Regions from separate parts of the Homo sapiens genome. Here region 1 is linked to region 2. The links come from fine-mapping of genetic effects on gene expression. Tissue or cell type: ileum. Region 2 holds a variant in brackets; the other region holds the start of a gene. All regions are shown on one strand. Distances are from middle to middle.

The links. PIP is the estimated chance that this variant, and not a neighbour inherited with it, causes the effect.
Region 1: it holds the start of TARID, and the variant in region 2 is fine-mapped to the expression of TARID in ileum (GTEx, PIP 0.97).

What each region holds. Positions count from the first base shown.
Region 1 is chr6:133,885,969-133,894,045 of GRCh38, forward strand. It overlaps TARID (TCF21 antisense RNA inducing promoter demethylation), which reads right to left and starts at 3,038. Exons shown (of 9, transcript NR_109982.1): 1 at 2,636-3,038. TCF21 (transcription factor 21) reads left to right here and starts at 3,145. Exons shown (of 2, transcript NM_003206.4): 1 at 3,145-3,879; 2 at 5,745-6,289. The coding sequence starts at 3,430. The coding sequence ends at 5,834. RefSeq lists enhancers at 2,693-3,606, 4,858-5,622, 6,508-7,116.
Region 2 is chr6:134,813,140-134,821,216 of GRCh38, forward strand. All of the region lies in intron 2 of LOC101928277 (a long non-coding RNA gene), which reads right to left. Among named protein-coding and RNA genes, the nearest start is that of ALDH8A1, 130 kb to the right of the region's middle. The variant T/C (reference allele first, on the strand shown) is at 3,972.

The DNA.
Region 1 (8,077 bases), 930 kb before region 2:
TAAAATGAATAAAACATCTGGAGGTGCTAATTAGAAATGAAGAAAAAAGAGAATGGGCAGTTTTGCCAATTTGCCAGCCTGTGTCTCCTGACCAAATGATGAGGAGTAAGAGAAAAGGATTAACATTTAAATTTAAAGGCATATTTTTCCCCTGAGAAAGATTATGTAATGGCATATGAAGTCAGTTCAAAGGAAGCCTATGATGTTTTCCTTCTCATAAAAAAGGAAGCAAATTATTCCATCCAAGTGCAACTGAATCAAATTTGAACTTCCTGTAAATGTATCAGCTGATAAACCAGGATTTAAGTTCAAGGGTACATTCCATGCCTAATCTTCATTTTACAGCTTTCAGAGATAAAATTTCCTTAGCACTAAAATCTTTCAAAGATAGTCTCTCTTGCAAAACAAATTGTTAGAAGTGAGCAGCAAATTGGCCAGATGCCTCTGGGGCATAAATGTTTCTTAAAAGTCAGGTAAGAACTTTTAGAAATGATCTCATACTTTCAAATCACGAGTTTTCTATTTCGTGCTTTGGAACAGAAATGGTCAACTTACCAAAAGGGTTAATACAGCTTCTCAAAAGTGCTTGTCTTCTCACAGAATATAGTTTATATTTTGGGAGAATTTGGCACAGCTTAAGTTACAGCTTAAATGACTTGCTCAGTAGAATCCAACAAGAAGTCATTTCTCCCACCCATTTGTCCCTAAGTGTTTATTAGCAGGGATAGACACAAAATTTTAAAAGAAAAAAAGTATTTTTCATATGAATATTCTCTCTCCAAGACTTCATATCAAGATACATAAGCAACAGTATTCTTCGACTCTTACTCCCAAACTGGAAGCCATCTTTTACAGAATTTTAGAAACACTCCAAAATTTATTATCAGCCCACTAGCCTTTCTCAGCCCAAATGTCTTACTGCAAGATAAATGGACATGGGACTTAATTATTTCTTATATGGCTATGAAGAAAAATAATTGCTAAGCATAAAAACCAGCCTATGACATGAGGCTAGTTTTACATGCTTCCAGAAATTGGTACTTTTAAGTTTCCAACATTGAAAAATATACAGACAACAGAAATCTTTTCAGTGGTACATATTACTATGATTTTTACTATCTCCCCAGACAGCCTGAGCAGTCCATTAACTAAGGTGTAACAGAGACCCAGAGCCAAAAAGAAAAAAAAATGGCTCCAACAAGAAAAATCACAGCTTAATGTATGCAGTAAGGCCATAGTTTGGATTTATAATAATTATCACATTCCAGAGCCCAAATTAATTATTTGTAGTTATTTTGCAGATATCTTAGTAGCTACACACACACACACACACACACACACACATTTCACAAAGTATTGGCCAATGCCCATTTTCACATAGCTCTTTAGTCTAAAAATAACTTTAACTTTCATGTTTTACCAAGACTGAGAAAAGGGAGAGCAAATCAAAGGAAACTAGTTGAGGAATTAGTGAAGAAATTTTTAACAGGCCTGCTGGGTGTTCTCTCACTGCTGTCTTGAACCTCAGATTAAATTATTATACTTTCTGTGTTGTAGTACTGGGTCATTCGTATGTGAAGACAAAGGCAACTTCAACTTGATATTTCTGTCATCCCTGCTGTGGGAAGAGTCCTTTTCCTGGTTTATAACATCAATCATTCTCACAATAAATCTTAGGGTGGATGTGGTCATTTAAATCTCCACCTGCACAAACAACAGAAAATAAGAGAGCTCATAAATCTCTACACTGGTGATTAACAAATTTTGGATCCTCAGCGAAGATATTATGGAAGAGGGGTCGCTAATTCATTAATAAAGACTGATTTGCTGACAACCTGTTTAGTTTACAGCATAGGGGGAAAGCAAACAAGACCCTGCTAGCAAAACAAAACGTTAGAGGTTAGTGAATTCCCAGCTGAGCCTAGGATTAGAGATATGATATCTTAATGTAGGAGAAGCCTTCAGACCCTAAGCCAACCACTCAGAAACCACTCTTACATTTTGCTCCAGCCCCTCAACTTCAATGCCTACCTGCAAGGGAAGAAAACCTGGCAAAGAAATTGTAAGAGAGATTTATGCCTTCAGTCTCCCTGGTTTCATTGCACCAATTTCATCCAATCCCTAGGTTCTGTTTCCCTGTGCTTTTTCTACCTACTTCCCAGGAGACTTTCTTATTCTCTAGGAAAGGTGGTTCGAGCTGGGGTTAAAGATGGAAAAGAACCTTTCTCAAAAGGATAGTCTTGCTTTGTGTTGTGTAATGTCAGCTTCATGTGAGGAACACTGGCACCTAACAGGCTGGAAGAAGACAAAGACAGCAGCATTGAAAGGGACGGTGCATCACAAAAAGTGCCAGGCAAGGTGATGTCTGAGAGCAACAAAGACTCTCAAGGCAATATTAAATGCATTTCTAGAAAAGAAAAAAAAACCGAGGGGAAAGTTTCCATTTATTAGGAAAAGATGATCAACTAACATAATGTTTTCCACACACTCATACTGCCCTCTCATTCCCTACCCACTCCCACTAAGCTGTGTGTGGTTGGGTTTGAGTGTGCAAATCAAGTATGTTTGTGTACACGTAGGCAGTCCTTTGATGTCTTGAAAATGACCAGGTGTAGGTGAAATGTTTTATACTTACTTTTCCATCACCATAAAGATTCTAGGAAGCACTTGTCTTCATTTATCCCGGGGAAGGTGGAAGATCTCGGTAAAGCCTTGGAGTCTTATGAGGTGTTGGCAGGATGCGGTTGATACTCCCTGTATTTTAATTCGTGTTTTCTTGGGAGGAGAGAGGGCATGGAGTGTAGGTGGAAGGCCCAGAAAGAGCCAAACGATCTAGTCGTTTTTCTAAAGTTCTCAGTAACAACCAGTTGTGACGTCTTAAGAGAGAAAGAAGGCCTTTTACAGATGGACAGAACATGCTGCTTCTCGGCCCCGGCCACAGTTGGGAGAAGGTGGCTGGTAAGTACATGATGCAGTTGAGTTGATTTACATTACAAGTTGCAAATCAGGGTCTGTGCATTGAGTTTCCCTCCGGTTGTGAAAGGGGTCTAAGCGCTTTGCTGGGGCCTGGCAGGCCCCTCCCTGGGCTGCAAGGATCCGCCCCTCTATTCCCCAGATAAATTCCTAGTGTCCACCAAATTCCTCAGCGCTCGCTCACCCTCCTCTACGGCCACGACTCTGGGAGTGGGGAAACAGAGAGCCGGTTCCTCTGCTGCAGAAGTCCTCGGGGTTCCTTCTCACAACTCTGCGAAGGGGAAAGGGTTGTGAGACCCAACCAGACCCCAACTCCAGCTCCCAGCAGGAGGTGGCTGCGCCACACTCGGGAGGCCTCTTGGTTTCAGGGTCTCTCTGTCTCTCTCTCACCCTCTTCCTCGCTTTCTCTGTCTCTCTGTCTCTCTCTCTCTCTCTCCCTCGTCCACTCCCCCAAACATGTCCACCGGCTCCCTCAGCGATGTGGAGGACCTTCAAGAGGTGGAGATGTTGGAATGTGACGGGTTGAAAATGGATTCGAACAAGGAATTTGTGACTTCCAACGAGAGCACCGAGGAGAGCTCCAACTGCGAGAATGGGTCTCCCCAGAAGGGCCGCGGCGGCCTGGGCAAGAGGAGGAAGGCGCCCACCAAGAAGAGCCCCCTGAGCGGGGTCAGCCAGGAGGGGAAGCAGGTCCAGCGCAACGCCGCCAACGCGCGAGAGCGGGCCCGCATGCGAGTGCTGAGCAAGGCCTTCTCCAGACTCAAGACCACCCTGCCCTGGGTGCCCCCCGACACCAAGCTCTCCAAGCTGGACACGCTCAGGCTGGCGTCCAGCTACATCGCCCACTTGAGGCAGATCCTGGCTAACGACAAATACGAGAACGGGTACATTCACCCGGTCAACCTGGTGAGTGCTCCCGGGGCTGCAGCTGCAGTCCAGGCGCGCCCGCACTCCCGCCTGCGGTGGGCGCGAGTGCGCGCGGGGCTGGGAGTGGGGGTGTGGGCGCGGCGGTGACTTACACATCTCGACCACCGCGGGCCTAGAGCCTCCAGGGACCGGAGGCGGGCGGTCTAGACACGGCCCTCGCTCTCTGCCCTACCAGCCCCCGGAGCGGGAGTGATTTATGCGAGGGTTTGACGTGGCAGCCCAATTAAAAGTTTGCAAGTGTGTTGAGCTGGCACAGAGGAGGGATCCCCCGCTCCCGCTCCATCGCCATCCTCCCTGGGGTGCAGTGGCTGCTGCGGAACTGAGAACACTGACAAGACGCTGCGAGCGGACAGGCATTTTGTTAATCCTTTTTTCTTCTTTTAGCAGAGAGTGGAACTTGATTTTCCTTTCCTTGTAAATAAAAACACCCAACTCCGTTTCTTTCACAAGCATATTTAGGACCATTGGATAAGGACACATCTATGCCCCCCAAATTGTCCACGTAAGCCCTTAACCGCTTAAATATTCTGTGCTTCTCCTATAAGTGGATTAATATTTTTAAATCCCAGAAGTTCTAGTAATGATCAGCAAAATCAGTAAATCCTCACTAGTATGAGTGTAATAAATACTAAAATAGGTCACTCTCACCCAAGATTTAAGAAATGTTACCTTTTATCTTAAAAAGTAATGCCCATTGAGCCTAATTTTTTAACACAAAAAACTGATAATCATTGAGTCTACTTTTTTCTCAAATGTATTTTACTGTTTAAGAAATATATCTTAATTTTTTTCATTTGATTTTATTTTAAAACTTCTAAGATCTAAAGAAAAACAATAACAACAACTTACTAGGATCTCTGTTTGTATATGATAAGAATGAGAGATTTTTCCTTTTAAAAGGCAAGTCTTATCAGCTAGCACTAGAGCAGTAGTGAGAGGGGTCTGAATTGTCTTCTCACCGAATTGGTTTCTGGAATTGCTGGAGAAGAAGATGCAAACCCACATTTTACCATGAAAAATGTTTTCTCTCCAATTGAAAGTTTGGGGTTTTTCCCCCCCAATGAGTAAATAGCTTTTTAAAATCTCCACCTAAAATGAAAGTGTTGCCTCGAATATTTACAACTGCTACTCTCTTCATCTTTGAATAAGAAACTTAAATGAGCTTTATTATAAAACAGCCCGGAGAAAGGAAGAGAAAGCATACTTTCTCAGTCCAGCATGAAGACGATCTTAAATTAAAAGTCAATGTAGTATAGCATTTTTTTTTCCTTAAGAGGTGGTGATTAATCTAGAAGCTGTAGTCAAAGCCGGTGTTTGCGATGGAAGAAACGAAAGTCGGACTAGGGAAATAGATGGTGATGAAAGGCGATGAAAGCGACAGGGCCCTGAAACCCGACCACCGCCTCAGAAGGAGGCCAGGAGGGCGCTTCGCCCCGAACTCGGTGCCCAGTAGGCACAAGGTCGTTCTGGGCTTCCCGGCTCAGACTGCCAAAGCGTCTGCCTCCAGGCAGTGCCACAGCACCACCCACTCTCCCACTCTCGGCTTGCCCGGGGCTTCCTGCATTGAGTCTCACAAGGAACCCAGTATAAGCCCTTTTGGCTCTCATTCTAAAAGACCACCACCAGCACCACCACCACCTCGAGCTGTGACTTGGCGCCAAAGCAGCTATTTGCTTTATGCAGCCGCAGGGTGCGCTAGGACCGGGAGTAAATTGCAGAGATAACCGGTCTCTCCAGAGCACCGCCTGCCCCCACCGCCCCCCTTCCTTTCATCTCAGGCCCCGAGTCCACCCCACCCCCTCCGCCACGGCCACTTACCTCCTCCACCCTCTTCTTTCCCGCAGACGTGGCCCTTTATGGTGGCCGGGAAACCCGAGAGTGACCTGAAAGAAGTGGTGACCGCGAGCCGCTTATGTGGAACCACCGCGTCCTGACCTTGGAGGTGCGAGTCTGGGAAAGGCGCGCTCCCGGGGGGAGCGGGCCCCGGGAAGGCGACCCCTGCCCTCAGTGCTCTCTGTCTCTGCTTCCCCCTCGCAATGCTCCTCTCTCTGTCCCACCCCGCGAGAACACTTTACAACGACGAGGAGATTCGTTTCCAAACCAGAGGAGATCAATTGTACTTACAAAGATTCCCATCTATTTAACTTTATTAACTTCTACCGTGAATGACTCTGCAAGCCTTGCTGGTCCAAGTGCAATATGTAATTATAAATATATAAATAGATAAGAGCCTATCAATGTATCTTTTGTACAATATGTTGTAAAATGTAGATCATAGGATAGCTGACTTTGACAGTCACATTTATAAAGTAATTCACTTAAAGATATATATTTTTTTCAAACAAGTTTTGCTACTTTTGAAAATAAATCTTTCTTTATATTGCTAAAAGCTCTGATATTTGGAGTGATTTTTAAAAATATTTGGAATAAGAAAGTGGGAAACTATGGGGAAGCTTGATAATGAAAATGGTTCTTTTAAACCTCAATCTAAACTTCTAGAGATAGAAGAAAATTGCATATGAGTTTCATAATGAAGATGCAGATTATGTTTTATACTGAAACCTTAAAAAAGAAATATATCGGTTACTTTTAAGGCTAATAGAAATTATATAACTGAAAACAAAGAATGGGCAGTATTAAAGTTATCCACAGTTATACAGTTCAAGAGTAAAACGCACCAGAAAAAGGAAATCCAATTTTCATGGATTCCACCGTATGACTGCTGACACGGGCGAGAAAGTAAACTCCACCTTTTGTCACCTTCCAGGTGTGAGCATAGCTGCAAACTAGTGAAGAAATAATAGAAGCTATGAAAGATGTAAATTCCATAACCCTTAGGGTGTGTTTCAGGATTTTCAAAGCTCTGCAGCATACATTATCTACATTTCTTATTAATAGTCCATTAATTAATTCTAACAATAAACCCGCATGCCTGCCTTTTGGTTGCTGTTAGCGGGTGCGTTTAGCTCCCGCCACGACTTCCGGCGGACTGGGTTTAATTTAAACATTTTCCAGGCTACGGAACAGCTCCTAAGGGAAGATTAAGTTGAGATAAACAGAGAAGCAAGGCCGAGGAGCCTGCGACCCGGCTCCCTCACTGCCCCAGCGCAGCCCGCGGCGGCCGATGCGCCAGATGCCACCGGGGCTGTTTAATGTTCGGGGTTATGACCGCAGTGTTTACAAGACGTCTTCGGTTATTTATACTGTTATTCCTCGCAGAGAGCCTTGAAACTTCCGCTTCATTTGCTCTTTCTTTTCGATTTTTTACCCTTTTTTCTCGGCTTAGTTTGGTACCTGGAGCGAGAGCTTCTCCGCCCTTCCACCAACCCCACAGGCCGCTTCGCGGGTGGAGCCCTCTGCCTGGCCATGGAGGAAGGATCCCGCTAGGCTGGTCCCGACTGGAGAAGCTGCTCTGCCAGGTGTGCTCTCTGTCAGCAATAGTGACCTCATTACCAAGGGGTGGCGACCACATTACCAAGCGCAATTCCCCATTCTCCAAGGGCTGAGAACTTCGGTGACTTCATCCACCTGTCTATTTGCACATGGAGGACTTTTCAAGATGTCAGGATACCCTTCCATCACCCCACCACCGCCACCCCAACTTGACTTTCAAGAACACATTTCAAGCTCTGGCCAGAGTCCCGTTCCTCAAATTCATGTGTTCTCTCCTTTCTACCAGAGGGATAGAGCCCATGCCTCAACCTATCCAGAGTTCAAATCAAAGAGTCCCCAGTGTGATTCAATTGATTGCCTTTCACGTTTCGCAAATTTTCCAATCTCCCACTCACGTTTTTACAAAACGAATGCTCTAAATTCTGAGGATTCCAGGCAGGCCATCCATAGAGAAATAACTTTTTCTTGCTCATTCCCTTACAACCCCAATCTATACATGGATTTTTAGAAAGTCTTCATGGCTATCTATAGTTCCCTACCAATAATTTGAAGCCTTTGCTTTAGGCAGGAGGCATGTGGCTATGAATAGGGAACACGTAGATTTGACCCTGGTTCTGCATCCAACTAGCTGTTTCTTGAAAGAGCCTGGATCCTCAGTTTTCCCATCTCTGCAAGCAGGGATAACGGTAATGAGAATGATAATAATCATTATATGCAGACCTTCCTCTTTCATCTTACAGAGGCTTAGTGAGGCTCAGATGAGATTATATCTGTAAAATCCCTT
Region 2 (8,077 bases):
TATTTCATGCTTGACACTTACTTGTTTAATAACAGCTCAACCCTAAATTAGGAGAACATGAAGAGGAAAAAGCCAGAGAAATAATTTGGAATTATGCCACAGATTTAACACACAGTTCACTGAACATAGTAAAACTTTCCCATGGAGGAACATAGGCCATGTGTATACAAGTGCAGTTAAATCAAACAGAATTACATTTTTTGGTCCTGGTTGATCCACTGCTGCTTATCTACAAAGCCACAGGATGGCAATAGAGAAATTCCTGTTGTGTAACTATTGTCCAAATGGTTTTATGGAAAAAAAAATGTGGCCAAATGTTTTGGTTCTAGTCCAATTTGCCTGTGATCTGGGCACATTTATGCATTAGGATAGCCCGTATTCATGATGGCTGCAAGTACGTACACCTTTCACTACCTGACTCTATCTTTTTAGCCTCAGCTCCCACACTACTATAACTCTTCCCCCCTTCCAGACTAGGACCTTTTAAAAAAAATAAAAATTGAAGCAAATAATCACTGGATACCTACTATGCACTAGAAGCTGTCCTATGTCCTAGAGTTATAAGAGGGATGGAAACAGATCACTTCTCCATAGAACTTACATTCTAATGAAGGAACACTGTTACTAGACAAGTAAAGGCATAGTGTGTATGGCAGGGATGACCTTCTGTGCACCAAATTTCCAGAGTGGAGTTGTCCCTGGCAGGCAGTAGCCCAGACAGGGACTGCATTTTCCAGCTTCCACTGCAACCAGTTGTGTCCATATGACAAATTCTTACCAATGCAATGTGAGTAGAAGTGATATGTGTCACTTACAGGACAGGCTTTTTTAAGAGCTTGATGTGCCTCCTCCACTTACTATTCTTTCCTTGGTTTCTGCTAGACACAGAGGACTCTGAAGCCCTGAAGGCAGAGCCTCAAGATGGAAGGATCTGAGTGTCTGAATCCCAGGGGAAGGAAAACCAACCCCAATTAGGAACATTAGCATTTAAAATACATACAATGTATTCAACTGCAGAAATGTTGGAGCTGATGTTTACAGGTTCTACCACTAACCTAACTAATATAGTATGTCACATAGCCATAGGCACTATGGAGAAAAATAACACATAGATGAGTAATGACAAATCTGATGGGTGGGGAGAGCTGCTAATCTAAACAAAGTGGTCAAAGAAGACCTCACTGATCCAATGACATGAGCAGAGACTGGAAGGAAGTGAGGAAGCAGGCCAAGTGAAAACTGTTGGGTAAAACTTTGCAGAAAGAAGGAACAGTGAACCTGTGGGTCCTGAGAAGGAAACATGCCTGCTATGTCTAAGGAACATCAAAGAGGCCAGGACGCCTGGAGTGCAGTGAACAATGAGATGGCTTATAGGAGATGAGGTCAGAGAGCAAACAGGTGTCTCATCTCCCAGTGCCTTCTAGGCCATCGTAAGATCTCTGGATGTTATTCTGAATGAGATGGAATGTTGGTGGGGGATTTTGAGCAGAAGAATGACAACATATTCCTATTTACCTTATAAGAAGATTACTGTTGATAGGCTGGGCGCGGTGGCTCACGCCTGTAATCCCAGCATTTTGGGAGGCCGATGGGGGCAGATCACGAGGTCAACAGATCGAGACCATCCTGGCCAACATGGTGAAACCCTGTCTCTACTAAAAATGCAAAAAAAAAATTAGCCGGGCGTGGTGGCATGTGCCTGTAGTCCCAGCTACCTGGGAGGGCTGTGGCAGAAGAATCACTTGAACCCAGGAAGTGGAGGTTGCAGTGAGCTGAGATCGCTCCACTGCACTCCAGCCCGGAGACAGAGTGAGACTCTGTCTCAAAAAAAAAAAAAAAAAAAAAAAAGATTACTGTTGATATTGAGTTGAGACTATGCTGTGCAGGGGTGGAGATGCAAGAGTGGAAGTAGTTAAGAAGCTGATATAATAATCCAGGAAGCGGAACTAGTGGCTTGGACTAGGGTGTTGGCAATAGAGATGACAAAAATGGTCAGATTTGGGGCATTTATTGAGTATGAAGATGACAGGGTTTGGTGATGGATTAGATGTGAGGGTGGGAAAATGTGAAGAACAGGCTTGAAGGTAAATGATAAGCAGTTCTAAGTTTGAGGTACCTTTCAGAGATCCAAATGGAAACATCAGGTAGACAGATTTTTGAGCCTAGAGTTCAGTGAAGAGATCCAGGCTAGAAAAGAAAGCAGGGAAAAGGAAGTAATCAGTGTATTATGATATTTAAATCTATGAGACTAGGTAAGATCATCTAAGAAATAAATACACATACAGAAAGGACAGGTCCAGGGACTAAGCCCTGAGACCCTCTGTTATCATTTGGAGGCTGGTGAGAAGAGGATAGAGCAAAGGAGACTGAGGAAGAGGAGCCCATGAAAAAGAAGAAACATTCGGAGAATTTTGGTCTCCGACGGAAATAAAGAAAGTGTTTCAAGGAAGGAGAATGATCAATTATATCGAATATTGTTAATAGGTAAGTAAAATGAAGATTGGATTTCCTGTGGGATTTAACAACATACAGGTCTTGGTTAGTGAAAAGAAAAATTTCAGGGAAGTGATTGGGGAAGTAACTGATTAGAATAGGTTTAAGAAAGAATGGAAATAAGCTCAACTAAAACTGACAACGACACATCTTTAGTGAAGTTTTGCTATAACTGGGAGTAAGGTAACAAGGATGTCTCTAGGTATGTGGGGTCAAGAGAGAGTTGATTTTTTTTTTAAGATAGGAGATATTGCAATATATTTCAGGTTGATGGAAATAATTTCATAGAGGGGGAAATTAATGATGGAGGAAAGGACCAGAAAAAGACTACTGGAGCCATGTCCTTGAAGAGGGGAAAGACAATATGCACAGGTAAAGAAGATGGTTTTTGATAGGAGCAGGGAGAGCTCATGCGTAGCAGTGGGAGGGAACGTAGAGTCTATGGGCTCAGATGCAGGCTTGTGGAAAGATGCAGTGTGAGACAGTGTGGAGTCTCTTGCGGCTGCTTCTATTTTCTCATTGACCTCAGAGGCTAAGCTGTCATCTGAGAGTGAGGGTGCCGATCTTGGTGTTTTGAGGAGAGAGTAGAAAGTGTAGAATGGTTTAGGAGCATGGGGAAATGAATGGACTAGGAAAGTGTTGTAGGATGGCCTGGCTGCCCTGAGAGCTCCCTTGCATCTAGTGGTCCCAAATAAGACCAGAGCACATGGATATGTCCCCTTGTCCAACCAAAGGCAGCTGCTCAAGCATAAGGCAGAGTAGACAGGCTGCAGCAAATCAGAGTTGAGGGTTATTGAGTCTTTAAGATAAAGTTAGAGACGGGTGAGGACATTGAGGGTCTTTACCAGAAAATGATGTTAATGATGACTCATGGGATTTAATTTGGGCAACTAAGGTTACAAAGGAAGTGAGACACAGTGAGAGGCTGGAGGGTTTGAGGAATTCCTGGCCCTGATATGATAAAATAATTATTCAAGTCAAGGTACTAGAGGCCATAATCTGGAAGCATGTGATCTGGGCTGGAGGGTGGGTGGACTGGCAGTGAGGCAGCCACATCAGATGACTGACCATTCCCTGAAGCTCAAGGCATTTCAAACTTACTTTGAAATTTACTCTTGCTATTCCTTTCATTGGGATAATTTTGAATCTCTTTTTTGGTTCTTACTCATTCCTCAAGGCCTAGGTCAGATGATACCTCCTCAGGCAGCCTCCCCTGATCCTCCAAATCAAAATTAATTGCCTTCTCTACTGTGCTCACATAATGTGTCTTACTCACTTTTAATATGAAGCTCATCACACTGTATCATCATCTGTTTACTAGTCCTGCTCTCCACAGCTCACGATTTTGAAGAGGACAAGAGAACATTCCGCTCACCTCCTGGCACATTCCCAGTGCATGGCCAAGAGGCTGGCTCACAGCTGACTCATCACCACCCCCTCCCCAGGGGCTGTAGCCTCTACTGCCCTCCTTTAATCCA[T/C]TTTCCAGACTGCAGTGAAAGTGATTTCCTGAAAAGTATAAATTAGATCATGTTATCCCTCTGCGTTGAACCCTTAATAGACTTTCCAATTGCTCTTCCGATGAAGACCAAATTCTTTCCATGGGATACGTTGCCCTGCAGGATTCGGCTTGCATTTGCCTCTCTGGCTTCACTGCGCACCAGTCTCCCTCCGCGCCTTCCTCTCCAGCTACCCTAGCCTCCTAGGACTTCCAAAGTGCAGTGTTTTCCCTGAAACCAGGTCTTGTCGAGTGTCCTCCCTGCAATCAGAGTCTTCTCAAGTGCATTTCCCTCAGTCTGGTGCTCTTCTTCCTCTTCAGATAGCAAATCAGATACCACCTCCTCAGGGATGCTTTCACTGAGCCCCACGCTGGGTGCAGACGCCTTATTACACACGCGTGAAGGACCCTAACCTTTGTCACACCGCTTAGTAGCACGCATAATTACATGGATCACATGTGTGGTTGTTTAGATTCATGCTTGCTCCCATGCTAGTCTGGGAGCCCCGTGAGGACAATGACCACAGGGCTTTTGGTCTTTACTGAATTCCCAGCACCCAACGCAGTGCCTGACTCATGAAAGCACTTCATAAATATTTCCTCACTGAACGTATTAAATTAATAAATAGACGGGTCTAATGTTTTACTTAATATTCATAAAATATAACAAATTTGGTTCCCCAAGTACTTATAGTTCCTGTACCAAAATAGAATGCAATCAAATCCATCACACATCACACTCACACACACACACCAGGTTTAATGAGTTTTCACACAAGTCTTTAAAAAATATAACCAGACATGTCACACTGTGATTTGTAACTTACAAGCTAGGCCTAATTATTAAAATGAAGATGACGTCTATGTGGCTAAACCAAGTGCCATCCCCACGTGAATGTGAGTTATCAGGAAACCTAGTTGCTCCACATATTTCAGAGCACACCTCAGGGCCCGAATCAATGCTCATTTGGCTGGGTGCGGTGGCTCATGCCTGAAATCCCAGTACTTTGGGAGGCCGAGGCAGGCAGATCACCTGAGGTCAGGATGTCGAGACCAGCCTGGCCAATATGGTGAAACCTCGTCTCTACTAAAAAGACAAAGATTAGCTGGGCATAGTGGCAGGCGCCTGTAATCCTAGCTACTTGGGAGGCTGAGGCAGGAGAATCGCTTGAGCCCAGGATGTAGGGGTTGCAGTAAGCTGAGATCACATCATTGCAGCACTCCAGCCTGGGCGACAGAGCGAGACTCCGTCCCCAGAAAAAAAAAAAAAAATGCCCATTAGAGTTCCTCAACATAAAAGATGGCCAATATAATCAAAGGCAAGTCTATGTTTTGGGAGTGGATTCAATGAACAGTCATTCCCTAAGCCTGTCCCATAAAGTGGAAAGTGGGCTCTACTTGTCACTTTCCATATCTTAACAGAATTTTCCAGACTATAAACACTAGCATGGTAAGAAAAAATATATCGTCTCATTAGGGAAAATACCCATTTGCTCACTTTCTCTCTCCTATATACCAGAAGTGTAAATAATAGGCATATATAAGTGTGCAAAATAGGCAAAATAATAGTCATATATAACAATATATTTATATTTCAATTTTTAGTTGTTTTTTAATCAAGAAATGCAATAAGAATACAGAAATCCCATAAATTGTTTTCCCATTTAAAAATAATTCTGGCCAGGTGCAGTGGCTCACATCTGTAATCCCAGCACTTTGGGAGGCTGAAGCGGGTGGATCACGAGGTCAGGAGTTCAAGACCAGCCTGGCCAAGATGGTGAAACCCCGTCTCTACTAAAAATGCAAAAAATTAGCCAGGCATGGCGGCACACGCCTGTAATCCCAGCTACTCAGGAGGCTGAGGCAGAGATTTGCTTGAACTCGGGAGGCAGAGGTTGCAGTGAGCCGAGATCGCACCACTGTACTCCAGCCTGGGCGACAGAGTGAGACTCCATCTCAAAAAAAAAAAAAAAAAAAAAAAAAAAAAAAAATCCTACCAACTACTTTGAAGAAATGTTTTAACTTTCATAATAGAAATTGTTAAACAAAAGTAAAGATAGCCTAATGAACCTCCTTCACCTGCCACCAGGCTTCAGTAATTGTCAACATTCTGCCAGTATTCTTTTCTCAGAAGAAATTTAAGAAGGGTGGAACCACAGGTCAAATTCAAGGAGTTGCTCAGCAGAGTTGCCCAAGACAATCTCCCCCCTCATTTTTCTTCATCTCCTCCACCAGCCCTTCTCTGACCCAACCAGGGATCAACTGCTTTTTGTGAACCAGATGAACTGTGCTTTGAACCATCACCATGGCAAATAGAAGAGGGTTTCTCATAACCCTGGTTAGGACATCTCCAAAGTCATGTTACTCTCTAGCACAAGACTCGTATCAGAAGCATCTTGGGATGACTCTGACATAAATATATTCAAGATCAATTTTAGAAATTGACGTACTACTCTGAGTCTGATACAGACATCCCTGTGACTCATAATTTCTTTTTTTGCCCAGGCTGCTTTATCAATACATGGAAAATGTAGTTCAGTCGCAGCTGCTAAAATTTACAAATATACTTCTATTTTGTGATGCTGTGTTTGAACTGATGTTGGTAATGTTACTGTTTTTATGTTCATGGGCAGTCTAATAATTTTTATATTTTGACTCATGTTAGAAATTACTCAACTCTGACTATTATCTTGATTTTTCCATCATTTTTGGTCAAGCATATTAACAATTTGGCTTGACTAAAGGAAGCTAGAAATGAATATAAGAAACACCAAGCCTTAGAGTAACTCAAGAAGGAAATAGACTTTCTGCATTGTTCCAAGGGAAAAGAGGAGACATTGGAACTTATGTTGAACTTGGTCTAGTAACCACAATAAAAGTGGTTACTCTGCTCTGAACTTGGAGTCCACAGCACCCATGGCTGGACTTTCTACCCTGAATTCAGTCCCTTAATGACTGAGCTTGCTGGCAGGCACCCAGTGTCTCAGCTGAAGATTACACCTCAGACCCTAAACTCTCCTAGCTCCCTAATTTCTCATTTTGGTTAAGTATGCCTGCAGAGACGACTTGCACTAATTCCCACTTAGACATACCCAGATTTGAGACTACATCCACTTTTCTTAACATACACATGTCCTTACCCCCCCTTAAAAAATGCTGACCTAGTTTAAGTTGCCATCCAAAATTTTTCTTATGTAAATCCCTACTACTACACACAACTGAGCCTTTATCACCTCTTAAAGTCCTCCAGGACTTTGCAGATATAGTCCATCTCATAAACTCCTTAGTCTTAGATAACCTAAGGCTCAGAACATCCTACGTCCTAATGAGGGTATCTCCAACTTCTGCTCATTTGTTCATTCAACCACTGGTAACATGTTCAAGGCACTAGAAGCTGTTATCAACCCACATACTTACAGTCCTGTAGAGGCAGAGACTTTGACACAGAAGGATGATACCTTGAGAAGTGTTAGCTCTTTTCCACCTGACTTTCCATTAATGACATGCCATAAACCTCCTCTTGACACCTAGCTCCAGCATGCTTCTTGCGGCTTTCTGAGTGAATCTTGGATAACATTGCTTTGCCCAGGAAGGTAACCTCACAAATAGGCTGTTCCTATTTCCACACATCTCAAATTCATCTAGTATGAAGCTTCAGAAATGACACCTGACATGGCAGATGTTCCTCTAAGCATCCCCATGGATGTCATAAACCCTCACCCCCAACCCTTCAGTCTCTCAGAGGTTCTAACACTTGCTTCATGCTAGTGAACTCAGGCATGTTCTTCATCTCTCTGAACCTCAAGAAGCAAATAACATTTTCCAGTGCACGTGGGAGAGGCAGGGGATGATGAATGAAGCAGCAGGCGCAGAGACCCCCACTGAGTGGCAGAGGTACTGTGAGGCTGCCTTTCTGACAATAACCCAGGTCTAGTGGGACTGGAGCCCCCAACAAAAACCGAGGGCAGATCCTAGAGGAGCACCATTCTTTATCTTCTTCTCAAGATTGGGAGGGACACGCTGTTCACACTAAACTCTGCATCTGGAATTTGGGCCTAGACATGCCACAAAGCCTTCTCCTCTTTCATG